7 separate regions of the Homo sapiens genome follow, and all the other regions are reported to be linked to region 5. The links are microRNA targets in miRTarBase. Many come from high-throughput screens and were not tested one by one. Region 5 holds a microRNA gene; each other region holds the end of a gene's coding sequence.

The links. Region 5 holds the annotated microRNA hsa-miR-423-3p (AGCUCGGUCUGAGGCCCCUCAGU, at 2,146-2,168, opposite strand). A microRNA usually pairs through its seed, bases 2 to 8, with sites in the 3' UTR of a target mRNA and lowers its output. Matches are read on the target gene's strand: a 7mer-m8 pairs with bases 2 to 8, a 7mer-A1 pairs with bases 2 to 7 and ends in A, and an 8mer does both.
Region 1: miRTarBase lists UBE2J2 as a target of hsa-miR-423-3p. The part of its 3' UTR that is shown has no 7-base or 8-base seed match.
Region 2: the mRNA of C1orf56 is a reported target of hsa-miR-423-3p. The part of its 3' UTR that is shown has no 7-base or 8-base seed match.
Region 3: the mRNA of MRFAP1 is a reported target of hsa-miR-423-3p. The part of its 3' UTR that is shown has no 7-base or 8-base seed match.
Region 4: the mRNA of RBBP4 is a reported target of hsa-miR-423-3p. The part of its 3' UTR that is shown has no 7-base or 8-base seed match.
Region 6: the mRNA of NUDT2 is a reported target of hsa-miR-423-3p. The part of its 3' UTR that is shown has no 7-base or 8-base seed match.
Region 7: the mRNA of B4GALNT3 is a reported target of hsa-miR-423-3p. The part of its 3' UTR that is shown has no 7-base or 8-base seed match.

What each region holds. Positions count from the first base shown.
Region 1 is chr1:1,251,787-1,256,217 of GRCh38, forward strand. It overlaps UBE2J2 (ubiquitin conjugating enzyme E2 J2), which reads right to left. Exons shown (of 7, transcript NM_058167.3): 6 at 4,259-4,339; 7 at 2,126-3,701. The coding sequence ends at 3,417. Among named protein-coding and RNA genes, the nearest start is that of C1QTNF12, 7.3 kb to the left of the region's middle.
Region 2 is chr1:151,048,638-151,052,887 of GRCh38, forward strand. It overlaps C1orf56 (chromosome 1 open reading frame 56), which reads left to right. Exons shown (of 2, transcript NM_017860.5): 1 at 1-215; 2 at 1,801-2,783. The coding sequence ends at 1,821. CDC42SE1 (CDC42 small effector 1) reads right to left here. Exons shown (of 5, transcript NM_020239.4): 5 at 2,348-4,250. Among named protein-coding and RNA genes, the nearest start is that of C1orf56, 3.0 kb to the left of the region's middle. RefSeq lists an enhancer at 1-11.
Region 3 is chr4:6,641,023-6,644,022 of GRCh38, forward strand. It overlaps MRFAP1 (Morf4 family associated protein 1), which reads left to right. Exons shown (of 2, transcript NM_033296.3): 1 at 1-236; 2 at 708-1,707. The coding sequence ends at 224. Among named protein-coding and RNA genes, the nearest start is that of MRFAP1, 1.8 kb to the left of the region's middle. RefSeq lists a silencer at 631-700.
Region 4 is chr1:32,678,682-32,683,112 of GRCh38, forward strand. It overlaps RBBP4 (RB binding protein 4, chromatin remodeling factor), which reads left to right. Exons shown (of 12, transcript NM_005610.3): 12 at 959-4,431. The coding sequence ends at 1,024. It overlaps SYNC (syncoilin, intermediate filament protein), which reads right to left. Exons shown (of 5, transcript NM_030786.3): 5 at 1,225-3,179. The coding sequence ends at 3,169. Among named protein-coding and RNA genes, the nearest start is that of SYNC, 22 kb to the right of the region's middle.
Region 5 is chr17:30,116,299-30,119,298 of GRCh38, reverse strand. It overlaps MIR423 (microRNA 423), which reads right to left and starts at 2,220; the gene lies at 2,127-2,220. It overlaps NSRP1 (nuclear speckle splicing regulatory protein 1), which reads right to left and starts at 2,483. Exons shown (of 7, transcript NM_032141.4): 1 at 2,436-2,483; 2 at 1,126-1,219. The coding sequence starts at 2,455. It overlaps MIR3184 (microRNA 3184), which reads left to right and starts at 2,139; the gene lies at 2,139-2,213. RefSeq lists silencers at 2,051-2,120, 2,057-2,658 and enhancers at 2,371-2,470, 2,501-2,600, 2,621-2,740, 1,773-2,972.
Region 6 is chr9:34,343,025-34,347,304 of GRCh38, forward strand. It overlaps NUDT2 (nudix hydrolase 2), which reads left to right. Exons shown (of 5, transcript NM_001161.5): 5 at 100-675. The coding sequence ends at 416. Among named protein-coding and RNA genes, the nearest start is that of NUDT2, 16 kb to the left of the region's middle.
Region 7 is chr12:559,848-564,278 of GRCh38, forward strand. B4GALNT3 (beta-1,4-N-acetyl-galactosaminyltransferase 3) reads left to right here. Exons shown (of 20, transcript NM_173593.4): 20 at 1,496-3,662. The coding sequence ends at 1,604. Among named protein-coding and RNA genes, the nearest start is that of NINJ2-AS1, 69 kb to the right of the region's middle. RefSeq lists an enhancer at 2,902-3,403.

The DNA of each region.
Region 1 (4,431 bases), not on the chromosome of region 5:
GGAGGCTGAGGCAAGCAGATCACGAGGTCAGGAGTTTCAGACCAGCCTGGCCAATATGGTGAAACCCCGTCTCTACTTAAAATTAGCTGGGTGTGGTGGCAGGCACCTGTAATCCCAGCTACTTGGGAGGCTGAGGCAGGAGAATCACTTGAACCCAGGAGGCAGAGGTCACAGTGAGCAGAGATCACGCCACTGTACTCCAGCCTGGGCGACAGAGCAAGACTCCGTCTCAAAAAAAAAAAAAAAGTTGAGATTTTAGTCGGGCGCGGTGGCTCACGCCTGTGATCCTAACACTTTGGGAGGCCGAGGCAGGTGGATCCCTTGAGCTCAGGAGTTCAAGACCAGCCTGCGCAACATGACGAAACTCCATCTCTACAAAAAATACAAAAATTAGCCAGGCATGGTGGCGCACACTTGCGGTCCCAGATATGTAGGGGGCTGAGTTTGGAGGATCCCTTGAGCCCAGGAGGTCACCGTTACATGTGGGCGGCAAGCCACCCAGGTGCCGAGGCAAGAGACCGAGGGCATGAGCTGTTCCAGTGTAATAAAGAAAATATACACAATAAGAATAGTTACACTAGAAATAGATTATAGATGTGATGATATATGAATATTCTTAATCATTAGTTTCTAGCATTACTCTTCATTCCAATATTATAATAATCTCTGTTCTACAACTATAACCTAGGAAAAACCAGGCCATACAGAGATAGGAGCTGAGGGGACATAGTGAGAAGTGACCAGGAGACAAGAGTGTGAGCCCTCTGTCACGCCCGGACAGGGCCACCAGAGGGGTCCCTGGTCTAGCGGTAGCGCTAGCGCCTGGCAAGGCACCAGTTACTTAGCAGACGGGGAAAGGGAGTCTCCTTTTCCCCGGGGGAGTTAGAGAAGACTCTGCTCCACCATCTCTTGTGCAAGGCGACATCAGTCAGGCCCACCCGCAGCCATCCAGAGGCCCGTCTCCCCGTGATGCTGTGCTTCAGCGGTCACACTCCTGGTCTGCTTTCGTGGTCCGCCCTGTACACCGGGCTCCGCCTTCTAGATAGCAGTAGCACAATGAGTGAAAGTACTAAAAGTCTTTGAAATACATAGAAGAAAGAATGGTGTAAGCTGTCCTCTCTCTCTCTCCGCCTCGGCTGCCAAACAGGGAAGGGCCCCCTGTCCAGTGGACACGAGACACACGTGACCTTACCTATCATTAGAGATGGCTCACGCTCCTTACCCTGCCCCCTTGCCTTGTATCCAATAAATAACAGCGCAGCCAGGCATTCGGGGCCACTACCGGCCTCCACATCTAGGTGGTAGTGGTCCCCCGGGCCCAGCTGTCTTTTCTTCTATCCCTGTCTTGTGTCTTTATTTCTATGATCTCACATCTCTCCGTACACAAGAAGAACCCACAGGCCCAGTAGGGCTGGACCCTGCAGTTACAGGGAGCCATGATAGCACCATTGCACTCCACACTGGGCAACAACAGAGCAAGACTTTGTCTCCAAAAAACAAAAAAACAAAGTTGAGATTTCACATCTAGACGACATTTGAGACAGGGTCTGGCTTCGCTGCCCAGGCTGGATTGCGGTGGCTCCATCATGGCTCACTGTAGCCTCCACCTGCCGGGCTCAGGCAATCCTCCCACCTCAGCCTCCTGAGTAGCTGGGACCAAAGGTGCACATCACCACACCAGGTAGTGTTTTGTATTTTTTGTGAGATGGGGTCTCACTACATTGCCCAGGCTGGGTTCAAGAGATCCACCCCTCAGCCTCCCAAAGTGCTGGGATTATAGGCGGCAGCCACTGCACCCGGCAGTAGCGTGTTGAGTAAACACTCTATTCGTTAGCATTCCCCCTCCCATGAGCCTCGGGAGACACCGGGCTTTGGAAGTGATGCTGGCGGTCACAGAAGCGGAGATCAGGGCAGGGCTGGCATCCAGTACGGGATGGGGAGAGAGCCCTGCAGAGGGCTCTACACCATGGCTCCAGCGACGCGATTCCCTGTGGGGACCCACCTGCCCTGCAGCTGCCACACCACCCCAGGCCAGCAGGTGTGACCCCCTGGTCACGGGCCACCCCAGCCCTGAGCACAGAGATGGACACACATCCCGGCCCACACAGACACAAGCAGCATGAAATTCAGAAATAAAGATATAATGAAAGACCTTTTTTTTCCACAAGAATAGGTTAAATACATACAATTGGTAAATTATAGAGCAATTCTGAATAAACTGATCAAAAAACGAAGAAAGATGAGCGCGTGCGGGCTGGGCTTGTCTCACGCCCGCCTCCGGACAGGGTGGGTTTCTTGCCGGCGGCCGTGCCCCACCTCGACGCGATGCACCTGCGGTACATCCCACCCAGGCGAAGTCACGGAACAGACGCAGAAGAGGGGAGACGGCCGAGACCCGGGGAGCCACGCGGCCCGAAACAGCCCCTGCTGGCTCTGGCGTCTTTCCGGGCCGGGGTGCCCCTCTGCCATGTTCCGTGGACAGCGAACACCCGGGCCGGAGCCATTACCTACTGTGAAGGCCAGCGCAGGGGGCACGGGATGTGAGGGAGGCCCCCGAGTGCACGGGGCCTTCTGCAGGGACTCCGGTCCTCCGCCTTCCACCAGCATAGGAGGACGGGCTTCTGGCCCACCGGACATAAGGAATTCAGAGAAAAGGCTCTGCAGGTACCCAAGGCCCCCCAGCCTGCAGCACCGAGGGGCGCCCAGGAGGCCCGGCCTGCGGAGGGCACCGGCAGCCCCCGCCCCGCTCGCGGCCGCCGCAGTCAAGGGCGACTTGTGGTTGGAGTGAGCAGGCTCCTGGCTTCCAGGGCAGCAAAAACCCCCAAGCACTTTCTAGAAGGAATGTGTTTCATTCTGACTGTAAACACATTTGTAAATGCTGAGACCAAACCCCGACTTATGGATCCTGAGCCACGGCCGTCACTGGCCCCGCTAAGCCTCATCACCACACGGCCAGGCCAGACCAGCACCCGCGGACGCCAGCTCCACCCCTGGGCCCCGAGGTTCCCACCCGCTGAGGAGCCGGGAGCTCCGAGAAACGCGCCAGGAGCTCCAAGAACGCAGGAGCAGCCCGCGGTCGGCAGCAAGTTTGCATTTCTAAGTGACCACATCTAATAAAATGAAAAACGGGTTTACTAAAACAGGTCCAAAGACAACACGGAAGATAAGCTACAAATCCAGCACACAAGGCCCACCCACACCAGCCCCAGCGGCCCGTGGCCAGGACAGGGCTGAGGCTCCAGTCTCCTCCAAAGCCCAGTCACACATTTTGGTTTTTGCTTCCCCTTTCAGGTTTTTAAAAGCTAAACCTAGGAGCCTGGTGGGTCTGCCTGTGCTGGGCAGTGTGTCCAGCCTGCCGAGGTCACGCTCTGGTGCGCGGTGCCCTCAGTGGCGCCTTGGGTCTCGGCGCCTGGGCCTCACTCCTGCGCGATGCTCCTCAGCACGTACTTGACCGTGTAAGCAAAGGCTGCAAACCCAACTATCACAAACAAGTTCGCCAGGGCGCCACCCAGGAGTCCGTGGTGCCGGTTGGCCTGCTGGAGCCCTGCGAGGTTTGGGACGGCCCCCGGCGCATGCCCGTTGAGCAGCTGAATCCCGTTCTGGACGAGGTGCGTCTCCCCGTCTGGAACCACGTCTGGCAAGGGGAGAGTCTGGGGTCTGCTACTGAGTTCGTCTTGTGCTTTCTGTTTTTGTTTAATCTCCTAAGAGAAAAACAGCGAGAAAAGCAGCTGGTCTCCAACCAGCGCCTTTCAGGACCAGCACTCCCGTTCTCAGGAGTCCACGGTCCACCACCAAGAACCAAGCCCTAGGCTGTGTCAAATTCCGACCCCATCTCACAGGTGAGGGCCCGAGCGTGGCCGGCCTCACTGGCCCTGTGCCCCTTGGCCCCTGCACTCAGGCAGACCAGAGCAAGGCTGAGCCACAGAGGCCAAGACCAGGGAGCACTCCAGTCCCAGTCCCACATGGCAGCCGCTGTGCCTCCCAGCTATCCCCAGACACCACCCAGCTGGCTGCTCAGAACCACGAGCTCCACGCCCCTGTGGGACAGGCCCAGCCCCCGGCCCACCAGCACAGCTGTCCGCAGGCCACCCCCCAGAGCCCAGGCTTTCTGCCTCCCCTGCCTCGGGGCTCCTGGGGGAGAGGAGCCATCCCCTGGGGAGGTCTGCAGCTTCAGGACACAGATTTTACTCTTTGGAAAGAGGTGAAACTCAAGTGTTTTAACGCAGGGGAAGGCGAAACCCACTTCCGTCTTTCTTACCTCCACGACTTCAGGAAATAATTCACAAAAGACTTTATCTTTCAAATTAAATGCTAAACTCTGCACTGCCAGTTGTCTTTTCTAGGAAGGAAGGGAAGGGAATCAGCCAGAAAACTAATTTCAATTCTTTCAAGATTCTAAAAACAGATGATTTCAAAGTCAAGGGCTGCAGT
Region 2 (4,250 bases), not on the chromosome of region 5:
TGGACACAAGTCTCTGTACTGACACCAACTGTGCCTCTCAGAGCACCACCAGTACCAGGACCACCACTACCCCCTTCCCCACCATCCACCTCAGAAGCAGTCCCAGCCTGCCACCCGCCAGCCCCTGCCCAGCCCTGGCTTTTTGGAAACGGGTCAGGATTGGCCTGGAGGATATTTGGAATAGCCTCTCTTCAGTGTTCACAGAGATGCAACCAGTAAGTGTTTGGTGATGAGCCAGGGTCTTTGTTGACGGATCTGAAAAGTCCTGGTATCTAAAACCCAGTTGCTAAGCCAGCCAGTGTTGCTTACATGAACTGTTACTGACTTACCTGGTTATTGATTCATAACATGCATTGGTTATTCACATTGTTAGCCATTGATTCCACCTATTATTTATTGAGCAACTACTGGTTGGTCATTAGGTAAAATGTCTTACTGCTCATTAGGTGATTATTGACCAAATAGTTAAGATTGGAAATATTTTTTTTTTTCAAGACAAGAGTTTCACTCTTATTGCCGAGGCTGGAGTGCAATGGCGTGATCCTGGCTCACTGCAACCTCTGCCTCCCAGGTTCAAACAATTCTCCTGCCTCAGCCTCTTGAGTAGCTGGGATTACAGGCACCCACCACCATGCCCGGCTAATTTTTTTTTTTTTTTTAGAAGAGACAGCATTTTACCATGTTGGCCAGGCTGGTCTAGAACTCCTGACCTCAAGTGATCCACCCGCCTCGGCCTCCCAAAGTGCTGGGATTATAGGCATGAGCCACCATGCCTGGTCTTGGAAATTCTCTGTTTTTTTCACAGACAAGATCTCGCTATGTTGCCCAGGCTGGTCTTAAACTCCTGGGCTCAAGCAATTCTCCTGCCTCAGCCTTCCAAAGTGCTGGGATTACAGGCATGAGCTACTGTGCCCCTGACCATAAGACTTTTTTTTCGAGACAGGGTCTCTCATCACTCAGGCTGGAGTGTGGTGGCGCAGTCACAACTCACTGCACCCTCCATCTTCTGGGCTCAAGCAATCCTCCCACCTTAGCCTGCTGAATAGCTGGGACTACAGACGTGCACCACCATGCCTGGCTAACAAGATCTCGCTATGTTGCCCAGGCTGGTCTCCAACTCCTGAGCTCAAGGATCTGCCCACCTTGGCCTTCCAGAATTCTGGGATTACAGACATGAGCCACTGTGCCCGGCCCATAAAGTCTTTTTGATGCACAGATAATTAACAGATATGAAGGATCTTAATCAATTAATAGTTTTGACCTAATACAGCTTAACAGCAACAAGTGCCAAAATTTGAGGTCTTACTATGTGCACTTTACCTGAATCGATCCTCACATCCTATGAGGTATTATTATCCCTGCTTTTCAGATGAAGAAACTGAGGTTTACAAAGCTAGTAAGTGGCAGAGCCACGAGATTTAAACCAGGTTTGACACCAGTGCCCACTCTCTTCACCACTACCATTTGGGAGTACTGTCCTTCCAGGACAAGGAAGGATAGTCCTCTGCTTTTCCCAGAATTAGCAAAGGTTCTGATTGACTTGATAAGGTAGTCTCAATTGATACGGATGATAGGACTTTGAGGAGGGAAAGGTAATAAAGCTTACACTTGGTCATTTTGCTTGTTTCTGTTTTTCTCCTTGTGTGTCCAATACCATTATTGCATACAAAAATAAGTAAGGGGTGGGCAGTAGGGTTGAGGGAATATGGGTTTGTGGGAGGGGGAGATGAAGCAAGGAAGGGAAAAGAATATAGATGTGGTTGTAATTTCCCTTTTTCTCTATTTTTTTTTCTTACGCAGATAGACAGAAACCAGAGGTAATGGCCACTTCATCCACATGAGGAGATGTCAGTATCTCAACCTCTCTTGCCCTTTCAATCCTAGCACCCACTAGATATTTTTAGTACAGAAAAACAAAACTGGAAAACACATTGTTTGGTCTTGTGTTTCTTTACAGAGGTACCTGAGGGAGGAGAGACATAAATCCCTTCATCCCTAAGACTGAACTATGTAACTAGCAGCCTCTGGCTTGTTTTCTACTCCCTGTCCCTCAGGATAAAATGTTGATATTGCTCATTTTCCTCATTTCCAACATTGTTTTAAAACAAGTACTTCTTTTACAGGCTTGAAAAATCTCAAATAAACGCTAAGAAAAGGGAGTAGGAAGAACAAGGAGTTGAGCCCTTGAAAGATGACAGTGGTCTTCTTGCCTTCATGCTTGGCCCTCTCTCCTCAAAAGGGCAATGTTGGTACAAAATTCCATCTCAGCCACTTTCGAGGAGTTATCTTCATTAGCTATATCCATCCTTTAATCCAACACACACCTGCAATGATTACTGTGCAACTATTTTGCTTAATTTTTTATTTGAAAAAATGTATTTAAAAGTCCAACAACTTTTTAATATAAATTACGACTCTCAAACCCATTCCCATCACTTTATTAGTGATGGTAGCATACATATTAGAGAAGGTAGCTAAAGGCAAGAGAGCACCAAAGGAAAAAGACTGTCCAAAGAACAGGTATTAGAATGAGGCCGAAGATCACGGTGACCAGAGATTTCTAGGAGTCTCTAACCTTTCCACCCTATCCTGTTAACCCTTTAGATCTCTAGTATAACACTCAGGCTACTGAGGTATTTTAGAGCAACAAGCTGGGTTACTTTCAGAGCAACCAGCTTGACTGGAACTGAGAGTAAATTGGGAATGTATGACCAATCTTAGACCCTGAAAAATGGCAGAAAATACATGGAAATTTGAAAAAAAAAAAAAAAAAAAAAAAAAAAGAACCTCAGTCACTGTTCTGTAGGGATAAGCAAACTGAATGGGTGGTGGAATTGGCAGAATGGATACCAGTTCCTACATTCCTGACCCCACTACCATAAAACAGGATGTTTCCTGTTGCAAAGCTAATGAGACCCCACCCTTCTTGTCTCAGAGCAGGCAGGAGCTCATCTGTCTTGTTCTGCCTTCCTAATTACCCTGGAAGGGCCAGAACGAAGAACACCTGAGAATACTGAAAGTGCCTAAAAACCCCTGCTCCTACGTTGTTTTCCCATTTAAAGCAGACTCTTCAGCCAGGGGGCAGTGGGACCTGGTCTTCAGACAAAACTCCCTGAGTCTAATGTGTGTCTAGGACTAGGGCACAGAAATAGAGCTTAAAATTTGGGGAGGATAAGGAGTGTATCTACTGCTTCTCTCTCCCCTTTCCCCAATCCTACCATACCCTGTTCATATCTCTACACTGCAGGAACCACTTCTCCAGAGGGCAAGAATGGAGGAGGGGGACCTGTCCATCATAGCAACATGCAAACACAAGCAAAACACTGAATAAAGAATTGTTTGGAGATTATGTGCAGCCCTACTGAGCCTCATTTATATGGGCTCCTAGTTGATCCATGGCTCGGGCTTAAGATGAGTAAGATGATGAGGGTAGCGTGCCAAGCAGAAATCACTTCAGAGAAAAATATCTTGACTTTAGAGTTGTGGTTCTCAAATGGAGGCGATTTTGCCCCCTAGGAGAAATCTGGCAATGTATAGAGACATTTTTGGTTGTCATAACTAGAGTGGGCCAGGGTTGCTGCTAAATATCCTGTAATGCACAAAATAGGAAACAGGTTTTCCTTACAAAGAACACTTCAGCCCAAAATGTCAAAGGCATCTCGGTTGTGAAACCTTGTTCTAGAGCCTCTCCCTGCTCCCGTGCTGTGAGGATCTTAAGACTCCTAAACTCACAGATGATTGTTTTCAACCTATTTATCTCACCATCCTCAATGATCAGAAGTCCACCTTGAGATGGACTTACTCCTAGTTCTGCCGCATTCTGGGTTTCTTTCCAGACCCCTCTTCCTCCTCTCACCTGGGCCAGCAGGGAGGTTGGCAGAGGGCAGGAAAGATGCCCCAAAACTTAAATGGAATGTCATCAGGTGAAGAGCTACCTCTTACCTTAACTCTTATTCGGTGGGAAACAAGGTTCCTAATAGGGATAGAGTTAAGGGCGGAGGCAACAGCAGGATGAGGATAATTAAGAGAACCTGAATTAAATTTTTAATATTTTAAAAAAGGAAAGTTGCTGGGAAGCTGGTAAACAGAAACAGAAGATTAGAGGCCTAACTAGAAAGAGACACTGGTGTTAGCAGAGAGATATTGAGGGGCTGTAAGCCTAAGGTTTGAAATCTAAAGATAGAGTGGAAAAGGGAGTAGGCACCCCCACCAGCCCCTGCTTGACATCTGCTTTAGTTCATTCCAGCAGG
Region 3 (3,000 bases), not on the chromosome of region 5:
GGAGCAAGCTGTGGGAGATGGACAATATGCTCATCCAGATCAAAACGCAGGTGGAGGCCTCGGAGGAGAGCGCCCTCAACCACCTCCAGAACCCGGGCGACGCGGCCGAGGGCCGGGCGGCCAAGAGGTGCGAGAAGGCCGAGGAGAAGGCCAAGGAGATTGCGAAGATGGCAGAGATGCTGGTGGAGCTGGTCCGGCGGATAGAGAAGAGCGAGTCGTCGTGAGCGCGGTCGGCGGTAAGTCGGGCACCCGCGCCAGGCCGAGGAGCGGCCCCAGCTTGGCCGCTCTTCGAGAGCGATGATTTCATCGAGATGCACCGGAATCGGGGGTGGGGCGGGAGAATAAAGGCGTGCTCGGGTCAGGGCCGATCTGGGCCCCGTCTTCGTGTTTTGTTTTTTGACGGTGGCGGCGTGGGATAATCAGAGTGGCCGGGTTTGGGCGTGATGCGTGTTCAGTGGAAGGGTCATAAATCTCAGAGTCGCCAAGGAAACAGAAACGGACAAGGTCCCGGGCCGTCCAGCAAGCGGGGGTGGAAATAGAGGATTTTCGGGGAAGACGTTGGACAAGTCAACGTTGCTAGAGACTGGAGTGAGTCAGGTGGTGGCCAGAAGAGGTGGCGTCCTGCACAGTGGCGTTCGTGAGGGTTTGGGGGTCGTTGTGCCTGGGATTAACCTCTCGATGATGAATTTCTTCCCATTGTGCTTTAGGTTTCCAGCCAATGGATTCTGGTCAACTGGTGGAGATTGGCTGACACCCTGGAGAAGCCGAAACCAGAGAGCCTTTTGTTTTCTCTTTTTTCCTGTCTATGCTCTGTCTCACTTAACACTACGTTTTCTGCTATGGTCTGTGGTTGATGACCTCAATATGAGTTTCGATTGTTAACGTGTTTTTGTTTGGGAAGTAATTTTGTTTGAAAATGCTCTCACATACAGGAATTAGGGCCTAGATTGTAAGCTCTTGCAGCAGTCACATTTGTTCCCGGGCTTTGGTGGTTATTTCTAAATTTTTGAGGTGCTTTGCTATTTCTTGTGTGACCTGATAGCTCCCTGGAACTTTGGGTCTGTGTGTGACACATGAGACTCACAGTTGGAGTTCTCCAGCTCTGGAGGTGCTGAAGGAGCTGCATTAATTCTGGAAGACGACTCCATGCAGCAACTACTGAAGAAAGGACCAGACTTCAACGGGGAGTGTGGATGGGCCGACCTGGCTGGGACTCGTGAATCTGGAGAAGAGCTGGAGAATGGATAGTATTGTCTGTATTTGGAGACTTTAATTTCTGTGTGAGACCAAAGGAGGAGAGATGTGTTTTGTTCAAAATTTAAATTTGTTGTGGTACACTATCTTATGTAACCTGTCTGGTGAGTTTGTTTGGACAACCTAACTCAGCTTTATTTGACATGGAACCTAAAATAGAAGATAAGATCTTGATATTCTGTACAAGTTGATGTAATACCCTGATGCGTTTTAGAGGACTTGGCATAAAATGAAAGATTGGCAAAGGCCCTTGAGGGGCTTGGGGATGACAGTATGGAACTGTCTGCATTGGACCCTAAACTGGACTAGAAGAGGCATCTTCAAGGTTCATACGTTGTCCAGCTGTAAGTTCATTTGAGTAGCAGACCTAACAAATATTTGAGGTCAGAACCCTACCATGTTAAAACAAACAAAAACTTACCATGTTAATAAAAGTATTCATTTGCTTGAAAAGACGAAAGACCTAAAAGGTTATTGAGAAATGTTAGTCCTTTAAGAATGAAATCTGCTGTCTCCCAGATGGTTCTCACTGTCAAATGGAGGGTGAACATCTTAACGGTTTCTGAGGCTCTTAGTCTCTAATCAAAGGGAAGCTTTCTCTCTCTGCTGTTGGGAACCGGGTGAGGAAGAAACACACTTGGTTCTTAGTGTGGGAAGAAACCACATGTAATCCTGTGGTCCAGGCCTCTGCCTTCAGAGAGCCAAAGCACCTTCAGTCTTTCCAATTGGAACATTGTTTTCTAGGCCTTGCACTGGGAATATAGCGATTACAGTTGCAGGGTGAGGGATGACATAGAGGAGATGTGATACCCCACCCTCCTTCCAGATTGAAGCCTTTCTGCCTCAGCTGCTAGAAGTGTTGCTGACAAACACCCTTCAGCTGGTTAGCCCTCTGGGCAGTGCCTTTTCAGAGGAGAGCTGCGTTAGCCAAAGTCATGCCCTTTTCCCTGGGTAGCCTACATCTAGTGAGTAATGGGCTGGAAATCTCAGGTCGCTATTTCTCTTACCCCAATTTGGGACAACTTTGAGGGACATGGTGGCTTCTGAGCTTGTGGGGTCTGCTGAGGCTTTTGTTAGGATTACATCACGCAGCCCACCTCCTCCCCCGTCCCAGCCTTGCATTCCTCCTCTTCCACAAGTGTTAATCCCTAAAAAACGTGCATCTAGTTTTCATCTTGGAGTCCACTTTCTGGGCAACCTAGTTGGTAGAAATCAAACAAAGCCATGTGTCCCTAGCACTAATAAAGATAGAATGTCCCAGGAGAACACTTGAGGGGGAGGTCTAGGAAAGCTTTCCAGAGCAAGTAACTCTTTCAGAGCTTGGCCTTGAAAGAGGAGCACAGCTTCCGAGGTCAGGAAGAGCAGGAGAGGCATGCTAGGCACAGGAAACAATGGAAGATGTTCAAGGTTTTCTGTGTGAGTTCCACACAGAGGAGGGAGAAGAAATGTATAGGACAGAATTATGAACTGGGAAACAACCACGAAAACTACATTTCGTACATTTGCCAAAACAAGAAATGTAACATTGGTACAACACTACCAACTAGACTTTTCTCTGCTTTCACCAGTTTCCCCACTAAGGCCCTTTTTCTGTTCTGGGATACTACATTGCATCGGGAAGTCGATTGTTTTCAATGAGTAAGATTTATAAATGACACGAAAGTGATCCTTCATCTCTCCCCAGCTTCCCAGTTCCCCTCTCAGGAAACTAGAAGTTTCTTATACATCCTTACAAATACTAATGTG
Region 4 (4,431 bases), not on the chromosome of region 5:
CAGGTTCAATCAATTCTTATGCCTCAGCCTCCCAAGTAGCTGGGACCACAGGGGTGCACCCCCACACATGGCTGATTTTTGTATTTGTAGTAGAGATGCAGTTTCGCCTTGTTGGTCAGGCTAGTCTCAAACTCATGACCTCAAGTGATCTGTCTGCCTCAGCCTCCCAAGTGCTGGGATTACAGGTATGAGCCACCACACCTGGCCTGACTGGCTTTTTTATGCCAAATAATATTCCATCATATGGATTGGATATACCGTGTATCCATTTTAGTAGTTGATGGATATTTGGGTTGTTTTTACTTTTTGGCTATTATTAATAATGTCTGGTTAGGCTGGGCACAATGGCTTACTCCTATAATCCTAGCACTTTGAGAGGCCGAGGTGGGCAGATCACCTGAGATCAGGAGTTCGAGACCAGCCTGGCCAACATGGTGAAACCCCATCTCTATTAAAAATACAAAAATTAGCCAGGCGTAGTGGCATGTGCCTGTAATCCTAGCTACTCTGGAGGCTGAGGCAGGAGAATTGCTTGAACCTGGGAGGCATAGGTTGCAGTGAGCCGAGATGGTGCCACTGCACTCCAGCCTGGGAGACAGAGCAAGGCTCCATCTCAAAAGGAAAGAAAAATAATAATGCCTGGTTAAAGAACTCAAGAATGTTGGCTATCAAGACAAATAGTATCCACACTGCAGTTTTGTGGGAATGTCCTAATCAGGCGTCTGGGGATCAGCTGCTTATTTTTATTGGAACATGATCATGCTAATTAATATTTCATTACCCATTATAGGTTGTCTCCGGATACTTTCATCCAAGAGTTGAATAGTTGTAACACAGATTGTGTGGCCCAAAAGCTATAAAGTATTTACTCTCTGGCTTCCTGGCCTAATCTGTTGTTGAAACCTTGAGTTTTAGAAGAAGTCTTCATGTTTAAATTCTTTTTCTTGTTTTTGGGCAGGCAGAGAACATTTATAATGATGAAGACCCTGAAGGAAGCGTGGATCCAGAAGGACAAGGGTCCTAGATATGTCTTTACTTGTTGTGATTTTAGACTCCCCTTTTTTCTTCTCAACCCTGAGAGTGATTTAACACTGGTTTTGAGACAGACTTTATTCAGCTATCCCTCTATATAATAGGTACCACCGATAATGCTATTAGCCCAAACCGTGGGTGTTTTCTAAATATTAATAGGGGGGCTTGATTCAACAAAGCCACAGACTTAACGTTGAAATTTTCTTCAGGAATTTTCTAGTAACCCAGGTCTAAAGTAGCTACAGAAAGGGGAATATTATGTGTGATTATTTTTCTTCTTATGCTATATCCCCAAGTTTTTCAGACTCATTTAAGTAAAGGCTAGAGTGAGTAAGGAATAGAGCCAAATGAGGTAGGTGTCTGAGCCATGAAGTATAAATACTGAAAGATGTCACTTTTATTCAGGAAATAGGGGGAGATTCAAGTCATATAGATTCCTACTCGAAAATCTTGACACCTGACTTTCCAGGATGCACATTTTCATACGTAGACCAGTTTCCTCTTGGTTTCTTCAGTTAAGTCAAAACAACACGTTCCTCTTTCCCCATATATTCATATATTTTTGCTCGTTAGTGTATTTCTTGAGCTGTTTTCATGTTGTTTATTTCCTGTCTGTGAAATGGTGTTTTTTTTTTTGTTGTTGGTTTTTTTTTTTTTTTTTTTAACTTGGGACCACCAAGTTGTAAAGATGTATGTTTTTACCTGACAGTTATACCACAGGTAGACTGTCAAGTTGAGAAGAGTGAATCAATAACTTGTATTTGTTTTAAAAATTAAATTAATCCTTGATAAGAGTTGCTTTTTTTTTTTAGGAGTTAGTCCTTGACCACTAGTTTGATGCCATCTCCATTTTGGGTGACCTGTTTCACCAGCAGGCCTGTTACTCTCCATGACTAACTGTGTAAGTGCTTAAAATGGAATAAATTGCTTTTCTACATAACCCCATGCTGATGGGTTTTATTTAGTATAAAACATCCATCAAACACCAGTCTCTGGCTTCTAGAAGAGTCCTTCAGATGACAGTTGTTGTCCATGGTCTTTGACTATCAAGAGCAGAATTAAATGTAATAGTCCCAGAGCTGTAGAAAAGAACTTTACTCCTTCCCAGGGAAAGTGAAAGACATAAAACACTGAATCAGAGGTGGCACAGATTAGTCTTTGATAAGGTAACGTTTCTTTGAAGTCTATCTGTAGAGAACTACATGGACTTCCAAGAGTGTCAAAGGCAGTGTGGTAGAGAGAATTTAAGGCAAGATTTAAATTTGGAAAAGGTGCTTGAACCTTTTCTCAGAGGTTTTATTTCCCCAGTATGTTTTTCACTGGGGCCTTTACTTAGGTTAGAAATAATAGGCTTTGAAGGCCTCTATCACCAGATGCAATAACCAGATAAAATTCCTGTTTTTTCCCAATCGCTTAGTTTTTTGTTGTTGTTGTTTTTTAACTGAGTAGATCATTCTGACCCAGAACTACTTTCATGAGGTAAGATCTTTGGGAAAATCTGAATAGCGTTAACCATTAGATTCAAATCTCAAATGGTTTCTTTTCAAGTCTAGTTGTTTTAGAGTATAGTGAGAAATACCTTGACACAATTTTAAGAGTAAACTATATGGGTCAGCATATCCTTGAACAAAAAGTAGACTTTGTAAAAGTATTCATTTAAATTCTAACACTCGTGGCACAAAAGAATGGAAATTGTAAACCCATGTAATGGAAATTGGCTATCTTTTTGACCCCACATGTGCCCCTCAAAAATGTTTTTGGTTTGGGTCAACACAAGGCAAGATACATTCTTTAAAATACTCCCAGATGTGTCCATACATTCATCCTTCACTCAGTGCATATGTGAGGGTTGTTGCTGGAAGACAGGAGGCTCATCTTTCCTTTCCTTGGTGCATTGAGATCAGTATCAACAGCAGATGAAATAGAATCCAGCAAAGAGTTGACATGTTCTGCCTCCGGCCAACTCTAGAATCTTTTTAAGCAGGTCAGCCAGTATTTGCAACTTCCACAGGATGAATTGCTTGCCAAGTTTCTGGCACTCTTGTCTGGTTGGAAGAGTACATCCAAAGGGTACTTAGTGATCCTTTGCTAAGAAGTTTTTTGCTGTTTCCGGGTTACAGATTTGGCCATATATTTCTAAACAGCCCCTGTAAAGTTGAAAGAAAAAGTTTATAACAGTGAACTTCTGAGGTTTAGTTACTGCAGGCTTTGTTGAGAAGAGATTGTTACAGTGTGATTTATGGATGATCAGGGATGACTTTCCCCTAGCAAATATTTGGATGCCTCCTGTTTGTCAAATAGAATGAATGGTGATGGTGATGGGAGGGATAGTTAAACGTTTTCTCTGCTAGGTTAACTTCTTACAGGTATAATTACAATGCCTGAAATTCTGTAGTTTCATTTCTTTGGATTAGTCGTTGTCTTTTCCAGATTGTACACAATCTGATCAACACAAAGGTAGTTAGTAGATCATTAACCTCAATTGCAAGGTTATAATTTCTCAAACATTAAGCATATTATCAGTCATGTGGATTCAAACACAGTATAAGAAAATCCTCAAGGCTGGGTGTGATGGCTTATGCCTGTAATCCCAGCTACTTAGCAGGCTGAGGCAGGAGTATTGTTTGAACCCAGGAGGCAGAGTTGCAGTGAGCCAAGATCGTGCCACTACTCCAGCCTGGGCAAAATAGCAAGACCCGACCCCCCATCTCTACTAAAAAGAAATTTAAAAAAATAAAATCCTAGAAAATTAGAAAAAGCAACAATAGTTACTTGTGGGCCAGGCGCGGTGGTTCACGCCTGTAATCCCAGCACTTTGAGAGGCTGAGGCACGTGGATCACAAGGTCAGGAGTTCAAGACCAGCCTGGCCAAGATGGTGAAACCCCGTTTCTACTAAAAATACAAAAACTAGCTGGCCGTGGTGGCATGCTCCTGTAGTCCCAGCTACTCAGGAGGCTGAGGCAGGAAAATCACTTGAACCCAGGAGGTGGAGGTTGCAGTGAACTGAGACCGTGCCACTGCACTCCAGCCTGGGTGGCAGAGCGAGACTGTCTCAAAAAAAAAAGAAAGTTGTGAATTTGATGTAAGCTTAGGAAATGAATAAAATTTATAGGCATCTGTATAATGTACAACTTGACACGGACTTTCTTTTATCCTTAGTTTCTTTCACGGACTCTAGAACTTTTATCAGAATATACTGGTAAAACATTGGGGGAGGGATCCTGAGTAGGTGATTGGTCAGAAAGATGCCTTCAGTTTTGTCAGTGTCTAAAAGTTAAGTCTGTTTAGGCCAAGCATGGTGGCTCACACCTGAAATCCCAGCACTCTGGGAGGCCGAGGCAAGTGGATCACAAGGTCAGGAGATGAGACCATCTTAGCCAACATGGTGAAACCCCGTC
Region 5 (3,000 bases):
TATTAAAAATACTAAAAATACAAAAAAATAAAAAAATAAAAATTAGCCAGGCATGGTGGCAGGCACCTGTAACCCCAGCTACTCAGGAGATTGAAGCAGGAGAATCACTTGAACCTGGGAGGCAGGGGTTGCAGTGAGCCAAGACTGCACCATCCCACTCTAGCCTAGGTAACAAGAGCGAAACTCTGTCTCAAAAAAAAAAAGAAAAAAAAATATTAAAACATGATGGGAGTATTGGAAAAGCACATATTTACTGGGTGCGGTGGCTTACGCCTGTAATCCCAGCACTTTGGGAAGCTGAGGCAGGCAGATCACCTGAGGTCAGGAGTTCAAGACTAGCCCGGCCAACATGGTGAGACCCTGTCTCTACAAAAATACAAAAATTAGCTGGTCATGATGGCAGGTGCCTGTAATCCCAGCTACTCAGGAAGATTAGGCAAGAGAATCGCTTGAACCCAGGAGGCGGAGGTTGCAGTGAGCCGAGATCGCGGCATTGCACTCCAGCCTGGGCAACTGAGCAAGACACTGTTTCAAAAAAAAAAAAAAAAAGAGAAAAGAAAAGCACACATTTGGGATTGTTTCTGATATATAACTGTGGGTTTCACAGAAGTAGTTTTGGCTGCTAAAATAGAAAATGTTGATATTAGATGTTACTGTAGTACTATCAAGAGTAACTATTCACTACCACGATTATAACTGAGCAATTACATTTGGCAGACACTGAATTTAAAAAAAAAGTAGCGTTGTTAAGAACTGTTATATAGTGATCTTAGCTCATGGTTAACAAATTAAAAACTGCTTTGCTAATAAAAATTTGTAGAAAATTGGTGACATCTTAATAACTCATACCTAGGGATCTTTACACCAACAATTTTGTTATGACAATTTCAGTAGTCTGAAAAGACCGTGTATTTGTTTAAAGGTAAAGTTTGCAGCTTTTAGAGGGAAAAAAATCTTTAAAAAATCGGTGGAGCTGCTTTCTTTACACCTTCCTTTTTGACAATTCTGTAAATTATACTCCACTGTACTGACAAATAACAAAGGCAAAGGTATCAGAGTCACAAGTTCAATTTTTAAAAAATTTACATTTCCAACCATGCACGAGTAAAACATAGGTTTCCTTACCTCATCATCATCATCAGAATCATTCCCAAACACTGATGGTTTTTGCAAAACAGGGTGCAACTGCTGTGTTTTCTTTGGCAAAATAAGCCCATACCTGCATATATTTTTTTTGAAATAGAAATTAAACCTTTATGTTTAAATGTTAACAAATACATCTACTACCTCTTCCACATGAAGCTACCAAATCAAAACATGTCATAAGCTTTATGAACACGTAACAGACTGTTTTTGCTTCTCAGTGATCTCAAAATTCTAACATGCCGTAAGATTCTATAATTACTACTCTAAGTGATCATTTGTGGACACGGGCCAAACTCGAATACCATTTTTATCAAAGAAGAGAAGTAAATGAAAAGTTCAGAAATGTTTTAAGATGGCGAAGTGACAGTAACATTTAAAAAAAAAAAAAAAAAACATGTGTAGTGGAAAGTTTAGTTCATGTCCACTAAAGATTTTAAAATGCTTTCAACTATCCTTGTGGTCTAAACAGTCAAGAAAATGGCTAGATTTTTTTTCCTACTGTGTACTTACACAGTTTCTAAGAACTGACTGGATAGTGTAACTCACGAAAATTTTTAAAAGATAACTGAGAAACCCAAGTAGCCATGGGGCAAGTTCGCATTACACTTTATTAAGATCATGTGCTTTGCCTCGGAGCATCTGAGAGAACCATCCCATCAGATCCAACTCCTTTAGTTTCTCACGTTTTGGCCTTTAAGATGCGGAGATCACGGGAGGCCGCATCAAAAGTAAGGATTACACATCAAAGGTAAAACTTTCAAGTACGTACAGTATTTGTCTCTTTTGCGGCAACGTATACCCCAATTTCCTATATGCCTACCCTTTTTCTGTGGCTTCTCAGAACAATATTCCTAAAACGAGAAGGAAGGGCGGGAATCAGGACTTGAGCTTCTGCCAAGGAGAACAAGGCCCTCTAAGGAAGCCAGGAACTGTCTCTCTTCACACTGCCCCTGAGAGCATCCAAGCGGGGAGAAACTCAAGCGCGGGTTAGGAAGCAAGACTGAGGGGCCTCAGACCGAGCTTTTGGAAAATAGAAAAGTCTCGCTCTCTGCCCCTCAGCCTAACTTCCTTTATTTCCTCACAAGTTTCTCCCTCAAACTTCGGGCTTCCATCCGGGAAAATGTACGGGGGAGGGGAATCTATGTTCCTCAGGACTTCTCGTTTTTTCCCGTCTCTACCCTTGACGACACAGTCCCTTCACTTCCAGCGCATTTAAAACTCCTCGGCCAAAGATACAGTCGCCGTAGTTTCTCATCCCCCAGCCTGACCCTAACTCCCGGATCACTCACTGCCTGCCCGGAATCGCCATCTTGCTCCCGTGTCCGCTGAACGTGGCCGACGCCTCCGTGACGCTGACGCCGATGTCGTCACGTAAACTCTCGCGCGGCTTTGGGTGGCCCGGATCCTGCTTGTCGGTTGAATCGCTGGTTTGAGTCACTTCTATGGTACTGGGAATCGGATCCAGTGACCTCTGTTTTGTTTCGGAGCCCACCGGCTGCCTCAAAATCTGTAGGAGAAAGGAATGACAACGTTCTAGGCCAGTTGTTCGCAGTGTGTGGTTCTGGGACCAGCGGCATCAGCAACACCGGAGATACTGTTAAAATGACAAATTCTCGGGCCCTACCCCAAACCTGCAGAATCAGAAACTTTGGAGTGAAGCGAGTTATCTGAATTTTAACCAGCGGGTAATTCTGATAAAGTTTGAAAACCACTGCCATGGCTATCGATATTCCCCCTACCCCCTTCCAAGTGTTCACTTTAACTGGTTCAGGATAATTAGGCGAAAAATGAAAATCTGTGTATTAATAATACCTTACATAGGACCAAAATTATTATTAAAAAAAAAATTTTTTT
Region 6 (4,280 bases), not on the chromosome of region 5:
AAGCAAAACAGAAAAAAAAAAAAATCTTGTCTGGAAAATCCAGCTTTGGGAACTTTGGAAGATTTCCTCCTCCTTTTCTTCCTCTTTTCTCCTAACTAGGCCATGTGGAACCAGGAGAGGATGACTTGGAAACAGCCCTGAGGGAGACCCAAGAGGAAGCAGGCATAGAAGCAGGCCAGCTGACCATTATTGAGGGGTTCAAAAGGGAACTCAATTATGTGGCCAGGAACAAGCCTAAAACAGTCATTTACTGGCTGGCGGAGGTGAAGGACTATGACGTGGAGATCCGCCTCTCCCATGAGCACCAAGCCTACCGCTGGCTGGGGCTGGAGGAGGCCTGCCAGTTGGCTCAGTTCAAGGAGATGAAGGCAGCGCTCCAAGAAGGACACCAGTTTCTTTGCTCCATAGAGGCCTGAGCTGACTGGAGCAGAGTCATTTGCTTCAGCAGGATCCTTGTGGGCCTTCTAAGATGAAGCCACCCTCAGGTCCAGGGAAGGTTGTGCTGGTATTTGGCTCATGACAGCCAAGAGCAGATTTGTGAAATCGGCTCAACTCCCAGGTGAGAGCAAGCAAAAATCTTGGCTGGGTGGAAAGGAAGGCAAAAGAGTAAAAATTAAAAAGGCCAGGCCCAGTAAGTGTACCTTGTACTTTATAAATAAACCTCAAGCAGCTCAAGGTTGTCCTTCTAACCTGTTGTGTTTATTTCTTGGACTCTTGGCATTGGTGGAGAGAAGAAAGCTGAAGTGAATCAGAGTTCTGACCTTAACCAGAGGGAACTCTGTGTCCATACAGTATCCCCAGAGAACTTAAGAGCTAGGGATCCAAATGGAAGAGACCCAGCACTGGCAGGATGGCTCTCTCGCCTCTGGAATGCCAAGCACACCCACCCCACCCCCACCAGGGGCCCTGAGACTTTGTGACCCATAGTCAGGATTTCCAAGTGAGTGGGACTGGAGTGCAGGAATTGGGTCTGTCCTACTCACTAATATATCTTTCACCAGCAGCAGGCACATATGTTGTAAGTACTCAGTAAATATTACCTTAAATAGGGCCAGGCACGGTGGCTCACACCTGTAATCCCAGCACTTGAGGCCTAGGTGAGCAGATCACTTGAGGTCAAGAGTTTGAGACCAGCATGGGCAACATGGTGAAACCCTGTCTCTACTAAAAATACAAAAATTACCTGGGGGTGGTGGCACACACCTGTAATTCCAGCTACTCGAGAGGCTGAGGCAAGAGAATCACTTGAACCTGGAAAATGAAGGTTGCCGTGAGCTGGGATCGTGCCACTGCACTCCAGCCTGGGCGACAAAGCGAGACTGTCTCAAAAAATGAAAGTATTACCTTAAATAATTAGAGACTGGCTAGGCGTGGTGGCTCATGCCTATAATCTCAGCAGTTTGAGAGGCTGAGGTGGGTGGATAACTGAGGTCAGGAGTTTAAGACCATTATGGCCAACATGGTGAAACCCCATCTCTACTAAAAACACAAACATTAGCTGGGCATGGTGGTGCACACCTGTAATCCCAGCTTCTTGGGAGGCTGAGGCAGCAGAATTGCTTGAACCTGGGAGGTGGAGGTTGTGGTGAGCTGAGATGGTGCCATTGCACTCCAGCCTAGGCAAGAGTGAGACTGTCTCAAAAATAAATAAATAGGCTGGGCGCAGTGGCTCACGCCTGTAATCCCAGCACTTTGGGAGGCCAAGGCAGGTGGATCACCTGAAGTCAGGACCTCAAGACCAGCCTGGCCAACATGGTGAAACCCCGTCTCTATTAAAAATGCAAAAATTAGCAAAAATGCAAAAATGGTGGCTCATGCCTGTAGTCCCAACTACTCAGGAGGCTGAGGCAGAAGAATCACTTGAACCCGGGAGGCAGAGGTTTCAGTGAGCTGAGATCACACCACTGCACTCCAGCCTGGGCAACAGAGCAAGACTCCACTTCAAATAAATAAATAAATAGAGACAGAAAGAATTTTAGACTCCCCAAGTCACAACAGAGAGAGGAGGGACAGGCAACCCTGGACCCCCAGGTCAGTGACACGTGTACTCTGTCCTCTCAGACCAGGCCTGCCTCCCAGAGTGATAAGCCTTGTTAACATGACTAAGGTCACTGGGAATGAGGCAAGCCCAGACCCAAAGGAATCTGCTGGGCCACCCAGCAGTCACATCATTACACCTGTGCATTCCTCACCTGCAGCTGCCTTCCCCACCCTCAGCAAAACCTCATCATTAATGTTTCTCTCTTCCTATCTACTTTTTTTTTTTTTTTTTTTTGAGACAGAGTTTCGCTCTTGTTGCCCAGGCTGGAGTGCAATGGCACCATCTCGGCTCACCGCAACCTCTGCCTCCCAGGTTCAAGTGATTCTCCTGCCTCAACCTCCCGAGTAGCTGGGATTATAGGCATGTGCCCCCAACATGCCCAGCTAGTTTTGTATTTTTACTAGGAACAGGATTTCTCCATGTTGGTCAGGCTAGTCTCAAACTCCCGACCTCAGGTGATCTGCCTGCCTCGGCCTCCCAAAGTGCTGGGATTACAGGCATGAGCCACCACGCCCAGCCTTCCTATCTACTCTTTTTGTCCACAACTCCACTGTAAGACTCAGAGGTGCAAGAGCTGGGTCTCAGCCCTGTTTTCCTTTGCTACTAGGGCTCAAGGAATGCAGGAGCAGGTGTTAGATCCCACAGCCCTTCCAGGAGCTGTTAGCAGCTGGATTCATGTGGATTTTATTAGAAAGTTGTTGCCCAATGAAGTGCAGAAGATTGGAAGTGAAGGGGCATTGGCAGAGGTCAGCCTGGATTACCAGGGTCAAGAACAGCCACCCCCAAAGGAAGAAAAGACAACTCGCCCAGGTCTTAAGCAGACTTCCAGATGTTTTTAGTCCCCAGTTCTCCATGCAGACAGGGCAAAAGTACTAGTGAACAGGATCTTGGAGCACAGCCAGGGGCCTGAATGGTTTTGTTCCTCACCCTCTGAGCAGCATTCTCTGAAGGAGGCCTGCTGCATGAAGTTTTTGGAGCTTAATGTTCTTTTTCCAGGCCAGCAGGGACCATATCACACTGATTTAATAAATGCCTGCTGGGCAGTAGTGCCAAACCACAGACGAGCTGCCTCCTAACAAGGGCTGGCCAGCTCCGCACTCTCAGAATGGGAGGCTGTGGAATCTCAAGTCTAAGACCTCATACATCAAAGTTGGAAGGGACCTGGAAAATGACCTGATTTGGCTGCTCATTTTTATTGCTGGGGAAATTGAGACTTAACAAGATAGATGGCCCTGGCAGTATCTATAGATGGGGTGCTTTGAAGAGGGGGTGCCAGAGGGAAGACTGCTTTAGAATATATATATATATATATATATATATATATATATATATATATATATATATATATATATATGTATGTATGTATATATAGCTTTGGAGTCATTCCTCTGGGCCTTACAGAGTGTTCCATTAAAATGTAGGTACTTTGGTGAAGAGGTCCCTCATAAGTTGTATTTTTTTTTTTTTTTTTTTTTTTTTTTTGAGAAGGAGTCTCACTCTGTCGCCCAGGCTGGAATGCAGTGGCACGATCTCGGCTCACTGCAATCTCCACCTCCCAGGTTCACGCCATTCTCCTGCCTCAGCCTCCTGAGTAGCTGGGACTACAGGCACCCGCCACCATGCCCAGCTAATTTTTTTTTTTTTTTGTATTTTTAGTAGAGATGGGGTTTCACCGTGTTAGCCAGGATGGTCTCAATCTCCTGACCTCGTGATCCACCCACCTCGGCCTCCCAAAGTGCTGGGATTGCAGGTGTGAGCCACCGCGCCCGGCTGTAAGTTGTATTCTTTGCAGGAATAACTGACAGTAGGGTGGGACTAAAGCATGTTATGGGAGGTGGATGAGGGTGGGAGAGAGAGGAGCTGAGATTAGGATGTGGCAGGTGAGTAGGCTTTGACAACATCACCACTTTGCTTTTGGCCAGTGGGGCTTGGGCAACCTGAACTCAGACCCCAGAGCGTTACAAAATCCAGCTCCCGTGCCCCACCACACCCCTCTCAACTGGCAGAGCAGCACTCTGCCGATGCTGCACTTTGGGTTAGGCCAGGCCTCAGGGAGACCTCAGCAGAGTTGTACCAGTTCAGGAGATGCTTCCATGTTGAAGTTTTCCTCCAGAGAATGGGGCTGGTCAGAACTAATCTAAAATTGGAGGAGAGCCCTGCCCCAGCCCCTCTGAGGGAGAGCTCTCCCCTGGGACCTCAGCCAGTTTACCAGCTCTTTGGCTGTCAGAGTCCCAGAGTT
Region 7 (4,431 bases), not on the chromosome of region 5:
AGACTTTGGGGCCAGCAGAAGAGACAGTGTAGACCACTGAAGGGCAAGAGGACATCCAGGAGGTGCCGGGTCATGAGACACCAAGGGACCTGGGGGTTTGGAGCAGGAGGAAAGGGTCAATGAGATGAAAAGCCTCAGAGAAGAACACAGTACAAGCTGCTGCCTTGGCAGGTGGACAAGGAGAGCAAGATTGGGCAGGGACACCAGGCCATGGGTGGTGAGGAGGCGGAGGCTGTTCCGTGTGAGGTTCCTCTTTCAAGAAATGTGCTGCCAAGAGAAGGGGCAGAGAGAGGATGGTGCCTTGAGATCTGAGCCTATGGTGAGGGAGCAAAGGAGAGGGGAGGGTACCCTTCAGAAGGGCATAAGCGCTGTAACAGCGTCCACAGGAGGTGGACAGGGCAAGGTCAGGAGCACTGGGGGCGGGACCTCGACACGAAGACACGCTCACTTCTTCCCGAGAGGCAGGACAAAATGCATCCACCAGTCACTGGGTCCCTATACATGGCCGGCCATCCACATCCGTTACCTCGTTTATTTCTCCCCAGACCTCAGTGAGGTCGGCATCATGATCTCCATTTTCCAGATGAGAAGACTGAGTCTTGAAGAGAAGTTAATAACTTGCCCCAAATCTCACTCACTTAAGCGTTAGAGGCTTGAAAACTAGGTCTATTGGTGTTTTTTCCCGTTGAGGGAAGAAAGAAAAGGAAGGTGACACACTAAGAGAATTCGAGTGAAAAGGGGGAAGGTAAAGGAACGTAGATAACTGGGAGCTCATAAAAAGGGTCTGAGATCAAAGGAGCCCCCAGGGCAGCTGGAAGCCTTGATTTGGGAAGCCGGGTCCAGCAGTCACCTCCACCTTGATCTCTGTGCTGGGCTTTTGCTGCCATGCACGGCTCCTGTACAGCCCTGAACCTCCTGCCTCCTCGGAGGCTCAGGCATCCAGTTCGGCCACTCTCAGCCCTGCCAGAAGTGCAGCCTCCCTGTGAGAGGGACACCCTGCAGGCTGCACATGCACAAAAGGCCTGGGGAGGGCCTAGGCGCCAGGTGTCTCAGTGCAGCAGCCCTGCCTTCCTCCGTCTATGACGTGTGCCCTGGAGGCTGGGCGCCAGTTATGGGGCACTCAGAGTGTGCCAGGAGCCGTGCTGAGCCCTCAGCATCCATCCTTCTCGTCTTCCCCACCTCTGATGTGTATATAGTATGTCTACTCTAATATTAGATAGATAGAATTCTATATCACACATTATCCTCTCATTACACGTATGTGATAATCGTCCTCCTAGAGATGAGCAGACAGGCTCTGAAAGAAGGCGTGACATACCCAGTCATGCAGCTGGGATCCAAACCCAGGCTGCCTGGCTTCAAAGCCCACAGCCGTCCACTGCACCTGCCTTCCCTGCCCCGTGGGGAGCGAACAGAGGGTCTGTGGTCGATGGGGAGGGGCCCCCCAGCTGCCTTCTGTGCTTCTGTTGGCTCATCTGTGTTTCTCCTCCTCCAGGATACTCCAAGCGGGCCTGGACGTGGAGCGTCTCTCCCTCAGGAATTTCTTCCATCATTTCCATTCCAAGCGAGGCATGTGGAGCCGTCGCCAGATGAAGACGCTGTAGCCGGAGGGTGTCCGCGGGGCCCAGCACTCCCCGCTCTGGACTAGCAGTGGCTCCCCAGGGCCCTGCTACTGTTCAGGGATGGGGAGTGGGGTGACGGCTGGACCCCAAGAGGCCTCGAAGCTGACGGCCCACTCCACCTGGAGCTGTCCCCTCACAGAGGCAGGTTCCGGGGCTCCTGTCTCTGCCTCCTGGGCCTTCAGAAGGGAGGACTTTGAGAGAGAGGCCAGGAGGGACCACTTGCTCAGTCGAGAACGGGAAGAGCTCCTGAGAAGGACGGGTCAGGAAGGAGAGATCTGACTGAGCGACACCATCCTCATCCATGAAGGTGCACGCCCACATCCCCCAAGCGCTCCTCACGCCAAGCGCTGACCACCAGACCCTCTTCTAGTGGACATATTTTATTGGGGGGCGGGGATTTTAAAAACAGAAAACCGAAACTGCTGTCCAGAGCGGGGGTGAGGTTGTGCACTGAGGGACTGTCCCCACGTGCAGGCCTCCCGCCCACTCCTATGTCCCTTGGGCGTTGTCCCTGGCCGCGGGACTGGTCCCACGTGGGGCAGGTCTCTGCTCCACCCCAGGCTCGTGCCTTCCAGAGACACACATCTCCCAGTAGCCACCAAACAGCTGGCCACTGATTAGGGCATTAACTTCCTCCGGATGGCTCACGTCAGACCAGAAGCACAGAACGGGCTGTTTCTGGTGCTTGGGCATTGGGAGGTGGGGAGCTGGCGGGCAGGGGGCTTGCCACTCCCTGGCACTGGACATTGAGGCCTGCAGAACAGGCAGGGTGATGAAGGCAGGGGAGAGAAGCCCTTTCCCTTACCGGCGTGCCTGTGGGTAAGGCCTCCCGAGAGGACATGGAGAAGAGGTAAAGAGGATGTGGACATATCTGTCAATTTCCTTAGGCAAGAAGCGGGTGGGGGCTGGACAGAAAGGGACGAAAAGGGAAGTGGAAGCTGTGAGCCTCACAGTCCAGCTCCACTGCAGACCTGCCCTTCTGCAGGGAGAGCCCTGGCCACCCGGCCTTGAGTGGAAGAAGAGGAAAGGGTGTACGGGGGCAAAACCCTGGACAGGGAGCAGGATAAGAAGGGGGCGGGATGAGAGGTTTGGGGAGGTGAGGACATTGCCCTGAGATATCCCCTGGAGGCAGGGAGAGGAGTGGGGGCAGGAGGAACTGAAGAGGGGGGCAGTTTCAGGGAAAATAGCCCTTAGCCTTTTTAGTCGATGCCACCCTTTCTGTCACCTGGAGACCTTGTACTTCTCTTGCACTAATAACCCCGGTGCTTTTGTGGCTGGGGGTTTTTCTGTTGCTGCTGCTGCCTCCACCACTGCTGTGAATTCACCCATGGTGCATTGGACACTGGATCTTGAACTCCAGAGTCTGTTTAGGGAGGTGAGCACAGGGCTGGGGGAGGTGCGGCGGGGCCCAGAAGACCAGGCCACTGAGCCCGCGCTCCAGGCTGTGACGGTCCAAACCACGGCACTGGAGCTGCAGGGTCTGCCTAGTGGGCTCTGCATTCCCCGAGAGCACGAGTTTGGCACATGGGAGAATGGAGCCCGTGGAGAACCTTCTGGGGGGTCGGGGAGAATCCCTGCCTCCCTTTAAGGAATCATGAAGGACAGAGACTTTTGAGATTGTGGCTTAGGAAGGCCATACCTGCTCCCTGGGCTGTGGCTTTTTCTGGTCCCTGCTGAGGCCGACTGGCCCCTGGAGAAGGATGGTGGGGCATAGGCTAGGGCTGCAGTTGGCCAGTGGGGCTGCCAGTTTCTTTCTGGGACCACTCTCGTCCTCGGGCATTGCACTGGAAGGCTGGAACCAGCCCAAACTGCCCACCTGCTTCACTTCCAATGACTAGGAGCCAGCCCAGCCTCCTGCCCTGCCCACACCCCTGCGCCCTGGGCCAGTGCCTTGCGTTTGATGTTACCTCCACACCATCTGCCTTAAGAGGAAGGGCCGGGCAAGGCCCCTACTCCCTAGAGAAATGTCTTGGGTAGGAGAGGGTGTGGGATGGTGGGAGGGGAAGCATTAAATACAGCAACTTCTTAGAAAAAAAAAAAGGTGCTTGTCTTTTCCTGTTGCTCTTCACGGATGTAAAGGATTGGGCTGAGGGGCCCAGGTGGGCGTGCCAAGGACCCTCCCACACCACCCTCCACCCTTACCACAAGTGTGATGCCTGCTGTGTGTGAGATGGCCTTCTCTGCACTGCGGTTTACTCAGGAAGAAGACAACATTGTTCCTGTCTGAGCAGCTCACCGTGTAATAGACTAGGCATTTTCTGTTCAGCAGATTAATGGAGGTTGGTGGTTTTAGCCGAGGAAAGCTATGGATACGCTGGGTGGAGAAGGCTAGATATAGGGCCAGAACGGTTTGGTGAGCAGTGGAGAGAAGCCAACGAGTGGCTGCTTCTAAACTGGCAGACCTTCTAAAAATCATTTCTGTTTCTGAGTTGGCAATGCTTTGCTAATGCTTTACAGATTTACCTTCCTCGTTATATTTGGCCCAGGCAAAGATCAAAATGAGTTTGCAGTCCTTAAACACATGCCTAAGGGAAGCTGAGACTGAAAGCCAGAATAGCTTACAGCAGGTTCGTGGAGAAGATTGTGCATATGTGCATCCACCTGCAATGGACTAATCTACAGTTCATGGGGCAGATGACGATAAGCGCAAGACATCTGGGCCAGGAACATTGGCTCCGAGCAGAACCCACAGAGGAGGAAGTAATTTAAAAGCCTTCCCACCCTCCAGGTCTGGGGTTTGCTCTCTTGAGCCCTCTCCAAGGCACAGATGGAGACCAGCCTGGATGCCTGAGCCTGCAGGACTAGACAA